Regions from separate parts of the Homo sapiens genome. Here region 2 is linked to region 1. The links come from fine-mapping of genetic effects on gene expression. Tissue or cell type: whole blood. Region 1 holds a variant in brackets; the other region holds the start of a gene. All regions are shown on one strand. Distances are between the middles of the regions. Region 1 overlaps TLR4 (toll like receptor 4). Region 2 holds the start of TLR4 (toll like receptor 4).

The links. PIP is the estimated chance that this variant, and not a neighbour inherited with it, causes the effect.
Region 2: it holds the start of TLR4, and the variant in region 1 is fine-mapped to the expression of TLR4 in whole blood (TOPMed, PIP above 0.99).

What each region holds. Positions count from the first base shown.
Region 1 is chr9:117,721,419-117,729,760 of GRCh38, forward strand. It overlaps TLR4 (toll like receptor 4), which reads left to right. Exons shown (of 3, transcript NM_138554.5): 3 at 1-3,317. Among named protein-coding and RNA genes, the nearest start is that of TLR4, 21 kb to the left of the region's middle. The variant C/G (reference allele first, on the strand shown) is at 4,297.
Region 2 is chr9:117,700,822-117,709,163 of GRCh38, forward strand. TLR4 (toll like receptor 4) reads left to right here and starts at 3,582. Exons shown (of 3, transcript NM_138554.5): 1 at 3,582-3,744; 2 at 7,742-7,908. The coding sequence starts at 3,652. It also overlaps the pseudogene RNU6-1082P. RefSeq lists enhancers at 3,004-4,203, 3,151-3,651, 3,552-3,601, 3,612-3,681, 3,652-4,152 and 1 more.

The DNA.
Region 1 (8,342 bases):
TTCTTCTAGCCTCTTTTTGCAAACTTCATTTTGACAAAGAATTCCAGGCAGTCTACAGCTGATTTTATTTCAATACAACGATTAAAATGGAAACCATATATGAAGATGACAAAGTTGAGCAGGTCCCAAACTCTCACTTTTAAACAAATGCTTGGCTTAAGAATCACTTAATGACTTTCATTCTGCTATCTATGTGTCTGTGTATCTAGGTACTAATTATCTATCTTTATGATCTTTATTGCTAGAAATTCTGGTTCAATATCAGAGGTTAGTCCTAAGGAATTTATATTTTAAAATATTCTCCCAGTTTTCGTGCACAGACAGATTTGGGAATTACTGTTATAATGGAAAATGGAGAATAACCACCCACATTTAATATGGTTATTGGTTTTGTTCTTGAGATTTATTGCTAAGATTCATGATAGCCCAGGCAAGGTCAGATAATGTATTTTTATTTTACACTGTATAGTTGATTCTTCTCAATCCCACTAGATCAGACTCTTTGGGATACTAGGATTGGCCTATTTGATGGTGAGCTCACTACATCCATTTAGATGTTGTGTCCATGCAATCATTTTAGTTCTCCTAGTTTCTACCTATCACGTTGTCATTTTCCCTTCTTTATCATCCTGGGTAGCTGAGACCCCACATAAATATATACCAGAAAAATGTTGTGGTCTTTTCTAAACTCTCTGAGGCATCTGTTGTCAATGTGATGTTGTTTTTTGTTTCCAGTCCAAAATATATCAAAGTAAAATTTAACTCCACTTTTGCTAAGTATTCATCTTGCCTTGAGTACTAAGATTCCAAAAATGACTTTCCCCTCTGAAAAACACAGGATTTCCTTGCGAAAACTTGCTGGGCCACTGCCAATCTTCCCAGAAACTCCTTTTTCCTTATCGTTGAGGGGAATTGGGGAAGTGATCACTGACGGTTGAAATTCAGTAGTTTTGGTCTTTAAGCTGAGACCCTGAGTCTTCTGAGGAGTCTACTGCTCCCCAGTGGGAAACACCTGCTGTCAAAATTTTCCTGCTTGCAAAGAGCACTTTTGAAATTAATGGCAGGGGATGAATATCTGGCTAGTGCTGTGCTCAGCTGAGTTATTAATAGGGCCTTCTGAGTCCTCTCTACACATCATCTTTGGCTGAATTAGCTGTGGTTTCAGCACCTGAGAGTCTAGCACCACTAAAGGCAGGGAATACCTTTGCCAGTTTCTGGCATATTAACAGCTGAGATCAGATAAGTGAACAGCGATAGAGGTAGTGAGGTTTAGGATTCAGGTCTGCCACCGGGAGCGCACCTCTGGGCTCAGGTCTCTCATTTGTAAAATGGGACATTTAGGTCAGATCAGCATTTTCAAAAGTGTGACATGTTAGTAAATAAGATGATTTTATGTGGTTGACAGATGAATGTATTACCTTTAGTGGTTATATGTTTATTTTCATGGTTACTTTTATTTATAATAAATTTTGTGACTAGCTAAGAATCAATTATCTCTTTAAAATATATTTAAGTTTAAAATGTGGGCCAACTTAGGAAAAAAACGGGATGAAATGAATTATATAAAAGGTATGCAGATTTGGAAAAATTTTGAAGGTGTCACAAGAAAGATTGGCAGTCAGAAAGGAATGAACCAAACGGCTGCTGAGGGTCAGGCCAGCTCTCTGACATTCTAGCATGTTCACATCTCCAGGGCTGTTTCCTTACCTATAAATTGTGGCAATTGGAGTAAATGTCCATTCCAGGAATTCTATTCTATGATTAGAGGTGTAACTTCATCATCCAGATTTTCCAGCATCCTTAACATGTGGTTTTAGCGTTCTAAACCTGATGATGCTATATCAAAACGGGAGACTCATTCGTCAAGTCATGATGTATCCATGTATTTATAATATTTCCCATGTTCCCTCATTTCTGAAAAGGATTAAGCTATCAACCCCATTGAGTTATAGGTGAAAGGCTGTGGAAACAAGACATTGATAGTGAAATGGCTCCACCACTAACAGGCTGTTGAACAAAGGCAAATCTCTTGATCTCTTTGCTCTTTGGTCTCTGTTTATCTATGAGATAACGTTATTTTTACGCTGTCTTCTGTGAAAGTTTTGAGAATGAAATGAGACAGAGCCTCCAATAAAATTTAGGGAAGTGCTACATAAATGCAAGGAGTTATTATGATAACAGATTGAAAACTCCTCCAAGGAGGAGTTTCTCTTTTGCCCCATGTTATAAACTCAAGAATATCTTCCATTTTGCCTACATATTCCAAAAGCTTTTAAATTAAGCTATATGTCATTCTTACAGGAGTCTCCTCTATTTCAGCAATGTGTATACTTGGTCAGTTTTAATTATCTTAAAGGAGAAGAATACAGTTTCTCTAAACTCAAGCACTTTTGTGGACTAATCCTTGCAATTATTCTTTCTTCTTTCCCATACTTGACATTTAAAGTGATATCTCCCAGGCTCCTACACTGTTAGTCACAGAGGTACCATTCGACCCCTTGTGCCTCTTACCATATGTGAATGCTTGTCAGTTGAGAGTAAACTTTCTTCATAAATTTCACAGTTGTGGATTGATAAAAACAGAGAACTCTGGTTCCTCATTCCTTCCTGCTTTCTTTCTTGAAATGCCATTCATGATGGTCCCTTATATCACTATAGGGCTGCTATCATCCTTCATCCTTATGCCACTGCAAATAGCAACCAACAGTGTCCTTAGTGCCAGCACTCCCAGGCATGCCCCTTTCCAAGCAGCAGGGTCAAGCCGCTCCCTTCCTGAGCTGTGGCATCTGTCTCTAAATCATGCTTCCTCCTTGCCTGCTGCAGGCCCTTGTCTCTGCCCTTTACTTTTTCTGGCTCTTGCCACGGTTTTGAATAAAACTCTTCCAAATATCTGAAGCTCAATTCTGTTGCCATTCTAAGCTCTCTAAATGTCACCACAATCTTCCTTCCTTTGCATTTTCTTATTGTGCACTAAGTTAGTTCTTGCTTAGTAAGTCTTGTCTTTCTCTCTGCTTTGACCTGTCAGTATTCCAACTTCCTTATTTTTTGATGTTCATTTTCTCCTTGCTCTCTTTCTTCCTTTCTTGTCTGTGAACTCCATTAACCGCTTCTGCATGTGACCATTAATGTGCCTGTCTTTCTTCTCATGTATTAGAGAGAACAAAAGCTTTGGGAATCAGACAGATCTGTGTTCTGATCCTGTCTTATGGTATCTGTCTTGTTTGTCTCGGCTTAAAATGGGGATAATATCTACCTCTCAGTTTTGTTGGCAGTTCAGTACACGGAAATAAAGTTCTCACTTTCTTTTTTCTCCTTGAGAGTGTTCTTTATTTTACTCATCTGGCCATCTAATATTTATGAAGAAGCTACTCTGTGGTTGAAAAGGCACATGAAGCTGCAGAAGTAAATGACCAAGAAGTGCCCTCAAAGTTACGGAGTTCAGATTCATTTTGGCAAGAGAGGCATGTCAATACACACACACACACACACACACACACACACACACACACACACACAATGTTATGCCAAAATGCAGGGTGGTGGGGAGTGGAGGGTTGTTCTTCCTAGAAGCAATCAGAGAAGGCTTTACAGAGGAGGGCCCATTTGAGCTGGAAATTGTAAAAGAACAGCTCTGCAGATGGATCTTTAAATTCTTAACCTAAAAGAAGAGCAAAAATGTAAATGATAAATCTGGGAAGTAATAAGTAGAAGACCATGTATAGCAGAGTTGAGGAAAGAAACAATATAGTATAAATACTGAATTACATGAAAGCTAATAGTTAATTGGCATCAGTTGACCCTGACAAAGACATTTATCTGGACTATGTCTCAATTTGCTTATCTGTCAGTTAAGGATGATATATTAAATGAGTGCTTATACAAACAAAGTGCTTAAAACAGTGCAAGGCACTTCACAGTCATCAAAAATGCTAATTTTTTGTGTGCTTTCATTATGAAATGGGGAGCATACAGCCCGACAGAAGCCTAGGTAATGTCTCAGCATTAAGCCCACTGGTTTGTGGTGCCTTGCATTTAGGAGGCCCAAGTCCTTATCCTGGTGTTGATACAAACTTCCTGTGTGACACTGGGAAGCTATAACTCAGTCTTGACATAATACAACTTGTTCTTCGGCTTCAAAAACTTTCCCAGAATTGGAGTGACCCTACCCTCCCTTTCAAGAAACAGACAAACATCCTAGAATGTTACAACATAAGGGTTGAAGAAGCTGTTGTTAAGTGATCATCTTGTTACCACAAAATTGTTAAACTGCATAACAGAGTTATGCAATTTCTTCTT[C/G]CCCTATTTTTTATTTTATTTTTCCATAAGGTATTGGTATTTCATTACATGAGTAAGTTCTTTAGTGGTGACTTGTGAAATTTTGGTGCACCCGTCACCCAAGCAATATACACTGCACCATATTTGTAGTCTGTTATCCCTCTCCCTCTTGCCACTCACAGCATTTGGGGTGTCTTCTGGGTCCTGCAGGAGCAGTCCACTTCCTTGAGAGGTTTTGTGGGTCCTCTTGGGAATGTTGGTTTGTTCTTGCAGTCAATTTGGAGCTAAAATTCACAATGCAAGCCTCTGGATGCTGCTCTGTCTGGAGCTGCAATCTAGTCCTGACTCCTCTCTGCCATGATCCCCTCCATACACCTTCTTCTCTTATTTTTATGCCAATGAGTGAAGGCCTCAACCTGGCCTTCCCTGCCTCTTAGTTAGCCTCCTGTTCTGCCTGATGTCACAAGGATAGTGAGAGGCATGGTCTGGATTTGAACCAGATCTACCTGTTCCCACTGCACCATGCTGACTTTGTATGAAGAAGCCACCAGGCTAGTGGTGGTGGTGGTGGTAGTAGCAGTAGTGAAATTCTATTGATAATACTACCTCTACCAATAATAATAAAAAAGGGGAGAGATGGAGGAAAAGGGGTGGAGAATCAAGTGAGGAATCAACTGGAGCAGTTCTACTTGATTCTGTTTTATGTTTTGGGTTTCTTGTTGACGGTTTAGCTTTTGTGATCTTAATTTTTGTTCTTTTTTGTTTGTTTTTGTCATTTCCAAAACTTCTGCTCAGCTTTCTATCCACTATAGGGATTCTTTCTACTACCACAAAACAATAACAATAAAGATCATAATAATGAAAAAATACAACATTCTTAAGTCCATTTATACCAAGTGAAACAGTCTTTTAGCAGTTTTCACGAACCAGGCACTACGTTAGGTGTTTTACGTGCATGATCCCATTTAATATTCCCAACCACTCTGTGAGGCAGGTGTCTTCATCGCCATTTGGCAGAGGAGGAAACTGAGGCTAAGGGAGTTTGAACCGATCCATCCAAACAACTTAGCTAGTAAATTACAGATAGTAAGATGGAAGATTAGAACCCATATGTGCCTAATTCCAAAAGCTGAGCTCTTCAATCCTACCCTGAAATATCTCCTAAGTATGATTGTTCAGATTATGCTAAAAAATCCAGTGACAGAGCTGATTATTTCCTCAAATGTCTCATTTATTGTTTGGCAGCTCTGATGACAGATATAAAGATGGAGATACATAAACTGACTACATCAGTCCGCCTATGCATGAGAGTTGGCCCATTATTTTCACCTGTGATATGGAATAAGAACCAAGAGTTTTTTTTTTACATGCATTTGGATATGATATAAAGGCTTGCTATTGGAGTTGGATCCTGCCCTTTTCTCACCAGGAGATTCTGGCTGGCTTGGAGCAGAAAGCCTTTGTTCTGGGGTAGCAACACCAATATTCTGCCTAGGAGAAGCCTCCTGCAGAGTCTTTCTCTTTTTTTCAGCTTTGTTTGACCCTCAGTAAGGTGCTACTTGAGCTTTCTGGGAGGTAGAAAATGTTAAATGGATGTACACAGATATCCCCTCCTTTGTAAGTTCCATGGGAAATGTTTTAAAATGGGTTCATTGCTGTCTCCCAGTACACTGGGGTAGTGGAATACAATGTGTTTTTACGAAATGGGTGATGGATGTCATATACTCAGCATGGTGCTTGACACATGCTGTGTGGTCTCAACATGTGGTCAGCTTCAGTAACTAGCTGATAAGCAAGTGTTAGGGCAGTAGAATGAATTTCTCATAGGCATGGAAACTAGAAAGGCAACGAAGAGGCTGGGCTCAGTGGCTCACACCTGTAATCCCAGCACTTTGGGAGGCCCAGCCGGAAAGATCATGAGGTCAGGAGTCCAAGACCAGCCTGGCCAATATGGTGAAACCCCATCTCTACTAAAAATAAAAAAAAAACTACCCAGGCGTGGTGGCGCATGCCTGTAGTTCCAGCTACTGAGGTGCCTGAGGCAGGAGAATCGCTTGAACCTGGGAGGCAGAGGTTGCAGTGAGCCAAGATTGCTCCACTGCACTCTGGCCTGGGCATGAGAGCATGACTGCATCTCAAAAAAAAAAAAAAAAAAAAATAGGCAACTGAGAATCCCTATACTGCCATAGCGTGGATGGTAGAACAGGCATTATCCAGAACACTGTCTATTAATTTAAAAATGTTGACTGAGCTCATCCTACCTGCCAGCCCCTGAAGAGGAATGCCAGAAAAATCCAAATAAAGTATGACCTCCATGCTCAGGAGGGTCAAGTCTAACTGTGCAGACAGGGAAGAGCAGTATCCTGGGTACATTTCTAAAAGTGTATGCAAAGTATATTGGGTCATCTGGCAGCCAACTGACAATAAGTTTGCATTTCTGGAGAGCTTCCTCCATGCACAACACTCTTCAAAGTGCTTAAGTGAATTAATTAATCTACTCCACTCTAAAGATAGGAAACTTAGGCACAGTGCAGCTAAGAACCCCACCTTAGAGCATTACAAATCCAGAGGTCACAGAAGCAGGATTTGAACTAACCTGAGACAGATTTGAGCTCTTACCATACTTCTATCTACTTCTAGGAAATACAATAAAATAAAACACAACTGGGAGGCCAGGCATGGTGGCTCACAGCTGTAATCCTAGCACTTTGGGAGGCTGAGGCGGGCAGACCACTTGAGGCCAGGAGTTCAAGACCAGCCTGGCCAACATGATGAAACCCCATCTCTACCAAAAATACAAAAATTAGCTGAGCGTCATGGTGCAAAGGTGGCTGAGGCACGAGAATCACCTGAATCTGGGAGGCGGAGGTTGTAGTGAGCCAAGGGTGAACCATTGCACTTCAGCCTGGGTGACAGAGCAAGACTCCATTTCAGGAAAAAGAAAATCTTTATATCAACCCCATCCATTGGCAATATTGCCCTCCTCTTTTTAAAATAAAAAAATGTTAAAATTGGGGAAATATATACTGTGTGGCCACCATGACCCTGTTCCAGCAGGGACAAAAACAATGGGAAAAAAAAGCATGATTCTTAATCTCTTGGTAGGAGTTGATGATTTAGGTGACAGAGGGACAGACATGTAAACAAGTGGCTATATTGTAGTGTGACATACATGAGGTAAAGATTAGTGATTTGGGGTTTGGTGACAGACAGACCTAAATCACTGATCTACCACATAGAAGCTGTGTGACCTGGGGCAGGTTACGCTACTTAACCCTTCTGTTCCTAAGTTTCATCATCTAGTCTGGTACATTGAGGATACTGCAGATGTTTGCCTCAGAGAATTATAATGGGATAAAATACATTAATATGATGAATAGAAATTAATTGGCACACCATCATATAGTAAGCACTTAAATTTGTGATACCTATTATTACAATTGTTTTTAATAGTAAAAATAAAGGTGAGATAAAGAAGAAAAAAATTAGAAGGACAGCAGCAGGGAAGACCCAGAAGGGCCTGGAATGTCTCTTAAGGTGTTTAGAAATACTGAAGTTCTTTATTCTAGGGAGGGAAAAGATCGGAAATGAGATGTAACTCTGTTACTCAGGGGATGGTGTGGTGGGTGGATTGAAACGGAAAAGACTGGCCCTAGGAACCCATCAAAAGAACGTGGAGACTTTACCCTCAATTGCTTTGATGAATGTCAAAGAGATTCCTGATCTTGTTAGAAAATGAACTCAAAAATCACGAGACATAGATACTATAGCCCTTTTTAGCTCTGTCCCACAAAGCATGGAGTGGGACTTTCAGGGCCAGAAACACAATCTGTTCTTTTAGAGAGTTGGTAGCAACTGTGATGTCTCCTGTGGCCTGACCCAACAACTTGGGCTCCACTCATTTATCTCAATAGCTCAGGCAATAGATATATATAGAACAGTGGTGACAACAGGCAGAAGGTAATTTAATTTGAGCAAAAGCCTCAAGTGGAAGAGACAGGAGGAGGTCCTTCTGAATGGAAATGCCTAACATGTACGACTTTGGTTTTTTTTTTTTTTTTTTTTTT
Region 2 (8,342 bases), 21 kb before region 1:
AATTTGTATTTGACACATGGTCTGCCTTCTGGAAGAGCAACATAGAACCTAGATGTCTTTGATTAAGGTCAGTAAATGATTGAGTGTTAATCCCATTCATTTCCCAGGAAAAGGAAACCTCTTTACAAGTCACCACCAGGGATTCTCCAATCACACATAGGAAAAATTTCCAGGAAGACTTCTATAAAACACATGTATTAACATCTCCGAAAACATAGTTGAAAGGACTTCCCTGGGCCCTTTTCCTTAGTTCCTCATCTAGACTATCAAGCGGTTTCCTCTCCAAATGATGGGAAGAAAGTGCATTTGTCTATTACACACTTGTATTACTCTATTCACTTAAGCACTGTGTCCCAGTAATGGGGTCTAGTTATGTCTGGCTTGAAATGACCCACATATTTGTTTCTCATTCTTAGGAAGTGGAGTGTTTCTGTATGTGTATATGTGATGGGGGTAGGCCAGGAGATTTTTTATCTAGGCAATACCCAGCCTGAAATCATTATTAGCATGACATGAGTTAAACGTATTTCTATTTTAGAAAGATGTTTTCAACAGCAGGATGAAGAATCAATTGGAAGAGCTGGTACATTGAAAGAGGTGAATCTAGACTTTGGGAGGCTTCTTAAAGTATATTGAACTAGTCTAGGCCGTGGGATATGTTCAATAGTAATGGTAGTAGAAATGGCGACTGACATTTTGGAATTATTTTACAGATACAATTTCTACAACTTGGTGGAACATTTTTTAAAATGTAGGTTTTATTATTCGGCTATGGTGAAAACAACAGATCAGAAGATGATGCCACTGGAAATATAGTTTGTTGTTTACAGTTCCTAAGAAGCGGGGGCATGCCACACCATGCAGGGCCACATTGGTAGCACCAGAGTCCGTCAGGAGGCAGAGGGAGCAAGAGGAAATTATAGGCACAAGCTTTTATTGTTGTTACTGCAGAAAAGGCAAGGCAAGGCAGGGTAAGCAGGGATAGGACTGGCTAGTTTGAATAACCTCAGTGGGCTCTGGGGTAGAGGGTCTGTCTCTAGTTGTCTGGTACCTGGACCTGTGATGATTAGGGCTGAATAACGGTGTCTACTTGGGTGTAAAAGCCAGGTAGAGGAGGTGGTTCAGAGGAAGGGCTCTGGATTGCTTAGTGTGCATAAGGCATGCTCCAGAGCAAATCTTTTGCTATTTTTTAGAACTAACTAGCCCTGGTAAGTGCAGTCTCTTCCCAGATGCCAGAACATCAAGAACACAGAAAAGAAGACAATTGGGTTAATACATGTTTAGCATGAGAAATGAGGAAGTAAGGGAAATAAAGTCAAAGAGATTTCCACCTTGGATGACTATGTCAAAGTGAAACACCATTAACTTTCCAGGGAACTAAACTTTATTGAGCACCTACTCTGTGTCAGGCACTGCTCTAAAATCTTTACATGAATAATCTCAATACTCAGAGCAAAGCTTTGACATGGAGGTTGTTTTTATCTTAACTCTACTGGTGTGTTGATGGAGTCTACAAGAGTTTGTGCCCAGTCCACCACAAAATGGTCCCTCACAGCTTGGTTTTTGACACGTTGGATTGGAAGTGCTTGGAGGATATTACAGTAGAACTATCTAGGACTTAGCATGCATAATATTCCTGTTTTAAATCAGGTTCTTATTTAACAGAAACTTACATTGCACTTGCTACTTTCCAGACACTGTCCTAAAAGCTTTACAAATGCCAGTTCATTTAATCCCAATACAATACTTTGAGATACATATTATCATCTTCATTCTATCCACATTTTCAATCCTCATCATAGCTCTCATTTATGGAATGTAATGATGATGCTCTAGACTAGACGTTTTACGTAAGTTAGCTTAATTCAGTAATTCAAAACACATGCGATTATCTTCGTTTTAAAGACCAGAAAACTAAAGGTTGGTAGGTTTGTATAATTTGACTACCATTGCGTATCTTTATTTTAATACATTTTATAAATGCAAGCTTCTGCTATGATTAAAAGTGATTACCACATTTTACAGACCAGAAAGTAATAATAAGTGTTGGTGAAGATGTGAAAAAATGAGAACTCCTGTACACCATTTGTGGGAATGTAAAATGGTACAGATGCTGTGGAGAATCATATGGTGGGTGCTCAAAAAATTAAAAATAGATTTACCACATGATCCAGCAATCTCACTTCTGAGTACGTATCCAAAAGAATTGAAAACAGAGACTTTAAGAGATATTTGTACAACCATGTTTATGGCAGCATTATTCACAATAGCTAACGTGTGGCAACAATGCAAGTGTCCATGAACAGACAAATGGATAAGCAAAATGTGGTCTATACATACAATGGAATATTGTTCAGCTTTAAAAAGGAAGGAGGCTTTGATCTATACTACACAGAAAAGAACCTTGAGGACATTATGCAAAGTGAAATAAGCCAGTGACAAAAAGATACATACTGTATGATTCCACTTCTAAGAGCTGCCTAGAGTAGTCAAGATTATAGAGACAAAAGTAGTGCATAGATTCAAGGGCCTAGGGAAAGGGGAAATGGGGAGTTATTTATTAATGAATAGTGGTGATGATTGTACAAAAATATGAACATAATTAATGCCACTAAATTGTACACATACAAATGGTCAAGATAATAAATTTTATGTTATGTCATGTTATGTTATGTGATTTTACCATAATACAGAAAATGAAAAAAGAAAAGAAAGAAAGTAAAGCTTAGCGGTTTACATGACTTGACCAATGCCTCAAAGCCATGAGTCACCCAGCTGAGATCTGAACTTCAGTATATTCCATTCTGAAATCCCAGACTTTTCCCAATCTTCTTGTACTTTTCAAACTGTGTTTCAGTTGAGGTTTATTTTCAGTTTTGTATGTGAGTTTCTTCACAAGAAGGGGCGGGCCAAATTGTGTCCTGCAAAAACCTACATATCGAAGTCCTAACCCCTCTACCTCAGACTATGACTGTATATGGAGAGAGAGCCTTGAAAGAGGTATGTAAGGTAGAATGAGGTCATTATGGTGGGCCCTAATCCAACATAACTGGTGTCCTTATAAGAAGGGGAGATTAGAATTCAGACACACTTGCTGACACCTTGAGTTCAGACTGGAAGCCTCTAGAATTGTGAGAAAATGAATGTCTGTTGTTTAAGCCACCCAGTCTGTGGTATTTCCTTATGGCAGCCCCAGCAAACTAATACAAATAGTGTTTCCACAGCTGAAACAAAATTGGAAAATCACCGTCATCCTAGAGAGTTACAAGGGCTATTTTAATAGAACCTGATTGTTTTCCTAAATTCACCAAGCCCAGGCAGAGGTCAGATGACTAATTGGGATAAAAGCCAACTAGCTTCCTCTTGCTGTTTCTTTAGCCACTGGTCTGCAGGCGTTTTCTTCTTCTAACTTCCTCTCCTGTGACAAAAGAGATAACTATTAGAGAAACAAAAGTCCAGAATGCTAAGGTTGCCGCTTTCACTTCCTCTCACCCTTTAGCCCAGAACTGCTTTGAATACACCAATTGCTGTGGGGCGGCTCGAGGAAGAGAAGACACCAGTGCCTCAGAAACTGCTCGGTCAGACGGTGATAGCGAGCCACGCATTCACAGGGCCACTGCTGCTCACAGAAGCAGTGAGGATGATGCCAGGATGATGTCTGCCTCGCGCCTGGCTGGGACTCTGATCCCAGCCATGGCCTTCCTCTCCTGCGTGAGACCAGAAAGCTGGGAGCCCTGCGTGGAGGTATGTGGCTGGAGTCAGCTCCTCTGAACTTTCCCTCACTTCTGCCCAGAACTTCTCACTGTGTGCCCTGGTTTGTTTATTTTTGCAAAAAAAAAAAAGAGTTAAATTACCTTAAAGACTCAAGAAGCCACAGAGATCAAATAATTCATTGTTACAGGGCACTAGAGGCAGCCATTGGGGGTTTGTTCCATTTGGAAATTTTGAGTGCTAACAGGGGCATGAGATAACATAGATCTGCTTAAGGTCCCTGCTCTGCTACCTTGTGGCTCTGTGAAGAAATTATCAAACCTGTCTGAGACTAGTTTTCGCATCTGTAAGAGAATTATAATACCTTCTTCACTAGAGAGTAAGCAGACTGCTTCAGTGTCATTTCTTCCCACTGGTGGTCTTTACACTCAGCTTCAAGCAGTCACCCTGCTCCTTTCAATCTCAGGAAAAAGATGGCTTTTGTGTGTGTGTCTCTAGAGAAAGAACTTTCTAAGTGGGTGTCAGACTTCTGTATGCAGTAATATAGTTTAGTCCAGAGGATGAAAAAAATAAGAGAATGAAAAAGGAAAAGAGAGAGAGAGAGAAGAAAAAAGCAAGAGGGAAATATGTATAATGTCAGCTAATGCAACAGTTTCTTTCTTAGTGAAATACCAATCAGCTGGTTGGTAATCTTATTCATGATGGATCTCTTTTGTTTTTCCCCTGCGCAGACTTCACAGTTGCTTTAGAAACCCATAGTAGAGCCGAACAGCTAAGAAAATGATTTACAGTGAGGCAGGGTCAGAAACTCAAGAGAGAAAAAGCCAGCTGCAGTCCTGAAGTTGAGGATATAGGAGAAAATCAAGTAATATTTAGCAAAGACTAATTCATTATCTTGAAGCCATCCCTTCCCTCAATTCCCTGCCCATAGTCCTCCTCCTTGTCCTCTTCTCTGTATCCCTCTGCTGTTAGGTTAATGGAGATAGATTTTCTAATTAGGCTCACTGCGAGATAAAACCACAGCCAAACTTGACTTCTTTTCCCCATGTACCTTTTCCTGTCAGTCCCTGAAGCCTGTCCATCCCTGCCCATCCCCTTAGTTCCACTGTAAGGCAGGCCCTCATTTCCCCTGGCATTGACTCTTACACACTAACTGCTTTCCTGATTCCAGTCTTCTTCCTTTAATTCATTCTGCACGTTCTTGTTTGTTATGTACTTGCATTTGTTGTTATTATTTTTCCTTAGGCTTCAATCTAACAAATTACTCTCCTTAAAAACTTTTAATAACTCTCCATTGCCATTAGAACAGCTTTCTACCACAGGGCCTTTGCACTGGCTATTTCTTCTACCTAGAATGCTAGATCAGTGCTATCCATTGGCAATATTATGTGAGCCACATATGTACTTTTAAAGTTTTTAGTAGCCTCATTAAAAAAAGAAACAAGTGAATTTAATTTCGATAATAGTTTTATTTAACTTAGCGTATTTAAAATAATGTTTAAAATTTTAATATATATTTACCTATTATTGATATTTTTACATTCCTTGTTTGGTACTAAGTCTGGAATTTAGTATATGTTTTACATTTACCACACTTCTCAATTTACACTATTCACATTTCTTGTGTTTGATAACTGTGTATGGCTAGTGACTACCGTATTGGTCAGTGCAGCCCAAGTCCTTTTCATGCTTTAATCACTCCATTCAGATCTCTGATTAAATGTCCCCTCCTCAGGGCAGTCTTCCTTGATTGCCCCATGTAGAGCTCTCCAGCCTCACTTATTTGCCTCAAATCCCCTTATACTGCTTAATATTTTTTTTTCTAGAGCACAACATTTTATATTTTTGTTTGTTTATTTTCTCTCTCTCCCTTTGTAATGGAATCGGTAAGGAGGCAGGATCATTGCTGGTTTTATTTACCACTATATTTCCAGTGGCCAGCACACAGTAGCCGCTAGATGTGTAAGTGATAAATGATTGAAATAATTGCTGCAGGACAAAGTCTGAGGCCCTCCTGATCTGGCTTGCCCTCTTACTTAGATTTCACCACTCCCACCACTCACCAGCTAATCTGAGTTTGTTTTCCACTCTTTACGTGCTCACGTTGTCCTCTCCTTAGGACATGTTTTTCTTCCCCTTTCCACATATCTAAACCTTACTCATCTTCCAAGACCCACTTTAAAATCTTCCTTTTCTGGGAAGCCTTTCCTGAATCCAGACTTGATCTCTGCTTTCTCTGAACCACAGGGCATATTTTCTAAGCCTATTTTATGGCCCCTTGAGATAGTGTTAGCTTTGCTCCTATCTAAACTCTTACTCTAGACTGTGAGTCCATTGAAGTCTGGAGCTGCATCATATTTTTCTTTGTAATGCCCACAGCACTTGGCAGGAAATGCCTACAATTTGGACTTAAGTAAACCTTCATTTAATCAGTTATTCAATCAGTTAGTGATTCAGCAAATATTTATTGAGCACCAACCATTTGCCAGACACCATTCTGAGTGCTGGAGACAAAGCAGTGGGCAAACCCATCAAACTTGCAATGGAATACAGGAGATGAACAATACGATGAGAACAATCAGATAGACAACATAATGTTAGATGGTTGTGCTTCCCGTGAAAGGGAATAAAAGAGGGCAAAGAAAGAGTGCCTGGCACTGTTTCTATTAGACAATATTGTCTTTGAGGCTCCATGGCTTGCAACATTTAAGCAGACATACGAATGAAGATCTGCATGTTTGAACTCTGACTTTGCGCATATTACTTCATTTCTTTGAATTTCCATTTTCCTCATCTTTAAATGCTTATTTGAAGATTAAGTGAAAGTATATAACAAACAAGAACTATGCAGGCATATGGTAAGGGATTAATGATAGATGATAATAATTAATGTTGACATCTATTGATCACTTATACTGTAGCGGGCTTTTAAATAAACTCTTTAAACACCTTATCTCATTTAATCCTTCAAACATTCTATTGGTTTCAAACAACAGAAAACTACAATTAGCTGGCTTCTGCAAGGAATTTTGTTGGAGGAAATGAGAGCATTCAGAAATTAGATGGGAGCGTTAGAGAATTAGGCTTACAAAGAATGTGGGAAAGTAGGCTAGAAAGCAGTGTAAAAACAAAGACAGCATAAAGCACTTGACCTTATTTACTAGGTTCCACCATGGGAATCCATGCACTCTAAAGATTTCCCCCTATTTCTACATCACTTTGCTCAAGGGTCAATGAGCCAAGAAAAAGAATGCAGTTGTCAAAATCTGGGCCATGACTAAGGAAGGTCTGGACATCTTGACTGCCAGACAGTCTCCCCAATGATATGGAGTATTTAAAATGATACTGGATATTTTATTTATTTTTTGTATTTTCAACTTTTAAGTTCAGAGGCACATGTGCAGAGCATGCAGGTTTATTACATAAGTAAATGTGTGCCATGGTGATTTGCTGCATAGATCATGAAAATATGGAACGCATCATGGATTTGTGTGTCATCCTTGTGCAGGGGCCATGCTCATCTTCTCTGTATCCTTCCAATTTTAGTGTATGTGCTACTGCAGCAAGCACGATATTGGATATTTTATTACCTACATTTTACATATGATAAAATGAGGCTCACTGAGGTTTTTCTTTTGTTCGTTTTATTTTGTTTTGTTTTTAAAGACTTGGCCCTAAACCACACAGAAGAGCTGGCATGAAACCCAGAGCTTTCAGACTCCGGAGCCTCAGCCCTTCACCCCGATTCCATTGCTTCTTGCTAAATGCTGCCGTTTTATCACGGAGGTTAGAATGCTGAGCACGTAGTAGGTGCTCTTTACTTTCTAATCTAGAGTAAGACAATTTATAAGCATGAATTGAGTGAATGGATGGATGGATATATGGATGGAAGGATGGACAGATGGATGAAAGGTTGACTGAATTTTGTGCTTGCACAAAAAGAGGCCCCTCTCCACCATCTCTGGTCTAGGAGAGGGGAGTTGGGAGACCATGCAGTAAAGATACTTCATGTCATGTGTAATCATTGCAGGTGGTTCCTAATATTACTTATCAATGCATGGAGCTGAATTTCTACAAAATCCCCGACAACCTCCCCTTCTCAACCAAGAACCTGGACCTGAGCTTTAATCCCCTGAGGCATTTAGGCAGCTATAGCTTCTTCAGTTTCCCAGAACTGCAGGTGCTGGATTTATCCAGGTAATGAATCCACTTTTACATACTGCACAAGGTGAGGTGTTCATTGTCCTGTCATTTCATTATTGGACTGGAAAGCTTGGTTTGTGGAGTCTCATCTTCATTCACTTATTCATTCATACAACAGATGTCTTATTAACTATATAACCTTGAGCAAGCTACCTCTATTCTCCAGGTCTCAGTTTTCTAATCTGTGAAGTAGGCAGTTGGCTGAGACAGCTTCTAAGGGCAATTCTAATTTTAGGTTTTCTTTTAAGACAGGAGAGAAAATTAGCTTAAATTCTTTCATAAGCAGCTATTTATTGACTACTTGCTATATGTTGTACACTCTGCAAGAAGACAGGCATATATTGATATATAACACACAGCCCCTGTTGTTAAGGAGGCATATCTTCTTGAAAGAGTTAATACCTTAAAGTCCTGGGTATGGTCCTGGG